Homo sapiens: one gene and its partner. The protein of the gene in region 1 purifies or fractionates together with the protein of each later gene. This does not show direct contact. Each region holds a gene or a part of one and is shown on either strand. Other genes may lie near its edges.

The links. The genes of interacting proteins can lie anywhere in the genome.
Region 2: the proteins of CPT2 (region 1) and SQOR fractionate together in Homo sapiens (co-fractionation; one large-scale study listed by BioGRID). This does not show direct contact.

What each region holds. Positions count from the first base shown.
Region 1 is NC_000001.11:53,206,824-53,210,323, forward strand, and holds part of CPT2 (carnitine O-palmitoyltransferase 2, mitochondrial isoform 1 precursor), read left to right. Parts: intron 1-3,191; coding exon 3,192-3,500. UniProt on the Homo sapiens protein: Involved in the intramitochondrial synthesis of acylcarnitines from accumulated acyl-CoA metabolites.
Region 2 is NC_000015.10:45,689,405-45,691,781, reverse strand, and holds the end of SQOR (sulfide:quinone oxidoreductase, mitochondrial), read right to left. Parts: intron 810-2,377; coding exon 752-809; 3' UTR 501-751; downstream 1-500. UniProt on the Homo sapiens protein: Catalyzes the oxidation of hydrogen sulfide with the help of a quinone, such as ubiquinone-10, giving rise to thiosulfate and ultimately to sulfane (molecular sulfur) atoms.

The sequences.
Region 1 (3,500 bases):
GCTGGAATGAGTTAAGACTCTGGGGCACTGTTGGGAAGACATGGTTGTGTTTTGAAATGTTAGAAGTACATGAAATTTGGGAGAGGCCAGGGCAGAATGATGTGGTTTGGCTCTGTGTCTCCAACCAAATCTGATCTTGAATTGTAATAATCCCCAAGTGTCAAGGGAGGGACCTAGTGGGAGGTGATTGGATCATGGGGTAGTTTCCCCCATGCTTTTCTTGTGATAGTGAGTTCTCATGAGATCTGATGGTTTAAAAGTGTTTGGCAGTTCCTACTCCTTGCTTGTTCTCTCTCCTGCTGCTGTGTAAGATGTGCCTTGCTTCCCCTTTGCCTTCCACCATGATTGTAAGTTTCCTAAGGCCTTCCCAGCCATGCGGAACTAAGTCAGTTAAGCTTCTCTTCTTTATAAATTATCCAGTCTCAGGTAGTTCTTTATAGCAGTGTGAAAACAGACTAATACAGTGATCCAGCTAAACTGCTTCCCTGGGTTGCCCCTAATGGTAGTGTAGTTGGGTTAGCTTCCCTAGGGAGGCTTTTCCAGTAAACTGCCAAAAGGTTGCTAGTGTTGTAGAAGGCAGGGTAAGTAAGGGAAGAAGGTTTGAGATCTCAACTGTGATTCAGGTCTCCCAGTTTTATTTTATTTATTTATTTTTTGAGACAGAGTCTCATTTTGTCACCCAGGCTGGAGTGCAGTGGTGCGATCTCAGCTCACTGCAACCTCAGCCTCCTGGGTTCAAGTGATTCTCCTGCCTCAGCCTTCTGAGTAGCTGGGACTACAGGCACGTGCCACGACACCTGGCTAATTTTTTGTATTTTTAGCGGAGACGGTGTTTCACCATGTTAGCCAGGATGGTCTTGATCTCCTGACCTCATGATACACCCACCTCGCCCTCCCAAATTGCTGGGATTACCAGCATAAGCCACTGCACCCAGCCCCCAGTTTTATTATCTCCAGAGAGTAAAACTTAAGTCTTCTACAGGAGTGAGGAGGGAATCTCAGGTTGTGGTAGTGGTGATATAATTGAATAGTCCTTCAACCAGATGTATCTAGGTTGCCAATTACTGAGCCCTCTGGGGGTTCTGCTGTGCAAATCATATGATTTCTTGGCTTTCTCTCCTGCCAATTTAGGATTGGCTTTCTTGAGTCTGCTTTAGTCATTACCAGTTGCATAAGTGCTTTCCAGCTTCCAGTATTTGTTTTCTCGTCTCCCATTCTCTTGGCCTGACTGGTTTATGTCTCTTTGAAATTCTTTTGCTAAAGGGGGGTCAGAGGCATGAATTTATGTCTTCTTTCATCAAATATATCTTATCCACCAGTACTTTTCTCTCACCATTTTAGTGCATTGCGTTATGTTTTAATTATTTGCCTCCTTCACCAGAGTTTTTCAGAATCAAAGACCATGTCCTATTCCTCTCTAAATCCCCTGGACCAAGGCCTGGCACAGCACTGATTCTCAAGGGATGGAATGAGTGGATGGACCAACAAATGAGTAACAGAGAAATCTGCATCTATTAATCCTTTTCCCAGTGCTATACATATGAACATTATTTGCCTGAATGATAGTCCTTATTTATAGAGTTTATTCATGTTTACTAATCCCAGCAGGAACTTTCCCTGACATATTTTCTGATAAAATATTGCTTCTGGAATTTTTACAGGTAAAACATCTATAGGAACTCAGAGGGCTAGTCTGAGTGATCCATGCACTGATATTTATAATAGCTTTTTTAGTACTTTCTAAACAGGGAGTGTACAAATGTACACTGTACATAGAAGGACAATGAAGACGTTCCCCCCTTATCGGGGAGCAATCAAGTATGATTGTTGCCCCTGAAAGGAGATGAAGCAAGAGAAACCTAAAGAGATGGGGTGGGAATTAACTATTCTGTTCCAGCATGAATGCAAGTGGAGTGTTACCATATTTTATTCCTTTAAACCAAGAAAGGAAACAGAAGAGGAAGAAAAAGCAATTAATAAACATTAGGAAAATGCAAACCAAATCTGCAATGCTATACTACTTTACACCTACCAGAATATCTCCACGCCACAAGACATGTAACAAGTGCTGCTGAGGATGTGGAAAAATTGGAACCCTCACAGACAGCTCGTGGGAATGGTGCAGCCACTTTGGAAAACATCCTGGCAGTTCCTCAAAGGTTAAACAGAGACTTACCATGTGATAGTAGTTCCACTCCTAGCTATGTCCATACAAAAACATGTATAAGAATGTTCATAACAACATAATTCTTAATAGCTAGGTGCAGTGGCTCACACCTGTAATCCCAGCACTTTAAGAGGCTGAGGTGAGAGGATTACTTGAGGCCAGGAGCTTGAAACCAGCCTGAGCAACATAATAAGACCCCATCTCTACCAAAAATAAAAAAATTAGCCAGGCTGGTGGTGTGCATCTGTAGTCCTAGCTACTTGGGAGGCTGAGGTGGGAGGATCGCTTGAGCCCAGGGTTCAAGGCTGCAGTGAGCCATGATCATACCACTGCAATCCAGCCTGGATGATAGAAATCCTGTGTCTCTTAAAAAAAAAAAAGGCAATGTAATTCATAATAAAGAGTGGAAACAGTTCAAATGTCCATTACCTGATGAGTGGATAAACAAAATATAGTATATCCATATAATGGAACATTGTTCAGCGCTAAGAAGAAATGAAGAACTTAAATGCTACAACATGGATGAACCTTAAAAACATTATTAGGAGGCCGAGGCGGGTGGATCACCTGAGGTCAGGAGTTTGAGACCAGCCTGCCCAACATGGTGAAACCCTGTCTCTACTAAAAATCCAAAAATTATCTGGGCATGGTGGAGGACGCCTGTAATCCCAGCTACTCAGGAGGCTGAGGCAGGAGAATCGCTTCAATCCGGGAGGCGGAGGTTGCAGTGAGCCGAGATTGCAGCACTGTTCTCCAGCCTGGGCGACAGGAGCGAGCCTCCGTCCCAAAAAAACAAAACAAAAACATTATTGTAAGTGATAGAAGCTAAATGCAAAACACCATATATTGTATGACCCCATTTGTATGTCTTGAATTATTGCAGAGCAAAAACATTCAGGGAATTCTTCTCTCTGGAGGTTGATGCCATTTCCTTTGTCTATGCTTGAATTTTTTTTCTTCTTCAAATTTTATTTTTAGGGACAGCATTAACATTTTATGTTATTTTTTTCTTTTTATTTTTTAGGACCCTGGTTTGATATGTACCTATCTGCTCGAGACTCCGTTGTTCTGAACTTTAATCCATTTATGGCTTTCAATCCTGACCCAAAATCTGAGTATAATGACCAGCTCACCCGGGCAACCAACATGACTGTTTCTGCCATCCGGTTTCTGAAGACACTCCGGGCTGGCCTTCTGGAGCCAGAAGTGTTCCACTTGAACCCTGCAAAAAGTGACACTATCACCTTCAAGAGACTCATACGCTTTGTGCCTTCCTCTCTGTCCTGGTATGGGGCCTACCTGGTCAATGCGTATCCCCTGGATATGTCCCAGT
Region 2 (2,377 bases), on another chromosome or scaffold:
CACGTATGAAAACAGAGGGGGAAGGAAGGAGGACTGGATAGAACCTCAGACGCAGCACAGTTCTAAGGAAGTTTCAGCCAGGTTGATGGGGGGTCCTGGAGCTAAAGTTGTCCAGTAGAGAAGTCCCACATTCCAAGGAATGGGCCAGCACTGGCACCCCACCATGTTCAGTCTCTGGCTGGAAGAAAGTATGGCCTTAGCATAAACAGGGTGGTGGAACAAGAGGGGTGGCAGCTGGGCTCTTACTCCACAGTGCTCCCGCGGCAGGAGTTCTAAGCAGCACATGTTCAGGGCTACTGCCCACTATGTTTGAAACAATATTGTCCCTGGAATGACCCTTTTCAGTGAATCCAAATAGGCTCTGTGAAATTATGCCAGCTGTCAGCTGAATACTCACAGTAGATAACATATAAGCTAGCCCACCACCACCATATTTTTCTCCCAAGTGCTGGAACTTTTCATCCCTATCAGCCAAGATAAAATTTTCTCATAGAACACAATCAGTGACAAACTTTTATTCAGAAAATAAAAGTATTATTTCATTTTATTATTCCCAAAGAATCAAGCCCATCATGAGTAGCCCACATGGTTGCTGTTCAAAGGTACTGAAAAGGGAGGCATTTGGTCACCATTACCCATCAAGGAACTCTTTACAAGGATAGGTTCCAAGTCCTTCGTGCTGCTCTTGGTCATTCAGTGACTGCAGTTTTGGCCCAGAAGCCATCCAAGATGAGCAAGTGCTGAGCCATCCTTAACTCATACCTAGATGAAACAACTTGCGCAGAAACGCTGGTCCTCCCCAGTAACCCCTGTAAGAAATAACACAAAAAAATGTACCTGCAGCAAGAGAGATGGGGCGACTTCAGTCAGGAGGATGCTGAAAGGGAAGCCAGGCTGCTCACAGAGCATGTTCATCAGCACGTAAAGCAAGATTGTCTAGTGAGTTGGAGAGATCCCATGACTAGGAGGGGACAACCTACTTCCATTCCTAAGCTTTGACAAAGACTTGCTGTGTGAGCCTGGATGTGCTAACTCAATTTGGCAAATGTGTCTAAAGCCTCTACTACATGCAAACTGCTACTCTTTCTGCTTTCATTACCTCATAATTAACTGTAGGATTTTGCAATCTTGGCCCTATTGATATGTTGGACCAGATAATTCTTTGCTGTTGGGGGCTGACCTGGCATTATAGGACGTTTAGCAGTATCCCTGGCCTCTGCTCACTAAATGCAAGTAGCACCCCTCCAGTTGTAACAACCAAAAAGTGTCTCCAGAAATTATCAAATGTCCCTGGGGCAGCAAGGGGTAGGAAGATCACTCTTGGTTCAGGACCACTGATGTAGACACCCAGATTTCTCTCTCATATGGGTTTAGAAAAGTCAAAGGAGGTCATCAGCTTTTAGAATGCAGAAGAGTGGCTGGGTGCAGTGGCTCACACCGGTAATCCCAGCACTTTGGGAGGCTGAGGCAGGTGGATCATTTGAGGCCAGGAGTTTGAGACCAGCCTGGCCAACATGGCAAAACCCTGTCTCTACTAAAAATACAAAAATTAGCTGGGCATGGTGGTGCATTCCTGTAATCCCAGCTACTTGGGAGGCTGAGGCAGGAAAATTGCTTGAACCCGGGAGGTGGAGGTTGCAGCGAGCTGAGATCACACCACGGGCAGGGCAAGACTTTGCCTCCAAAAAAAAAAAAAAAAGGAGGAAGAGGAATTACTCGTTTTTATTACTCTATTTACTTATTGAATCCCTACTATGTACCTGCCTCTTTATGTGTTATCTCATTAACCTCCATCTTGTGAGGTAGGCAATGTTACTTTCATTTTGCAGATGAGAAATTTAAACACAAAGAGTGTTTAATTAAATTAAACAGAACTTTCCCTGGGACACACAGCTATGTATGTCATGCTAATAGCATGACACTGCTAATGGCCATAATGACACTGCTAATGACTTCTGCCATGCTAATAGCAGAAGTATGACTCAAATGCAGGTCTGACTCCAAAGTCTGTGCTCTTACTCACTGTTTGGTTTCTCCCATAACAATAAAAACAAAGGTAAGGGGCCAGGAGCGGTGGCTCATGCCTGTAATCCCAACACATTGGGAGGCCGAGGCGGGCGGATCACTTGAGGTTGGGAGTTTGAGACCAGCCTGGCCAACATTTAGTAGAGACCCGTCTCTACTAAAAATATAAAAATTAGCCAGGCGTGGTGGCAGGCACCTGTAATCCCAGCTACTCAGGAGGCTGGGGCAGGAAAATTGCATGAACCCAGGAAGTGGAGGTTGCAGTGAGCCAAGATTGTGCCACTGCACTCCAACCTGGGCAACAGAGCAAGACTCTGTCTCAAAAAAAAAAAAAAAAAAGTAAGGTAGCAGA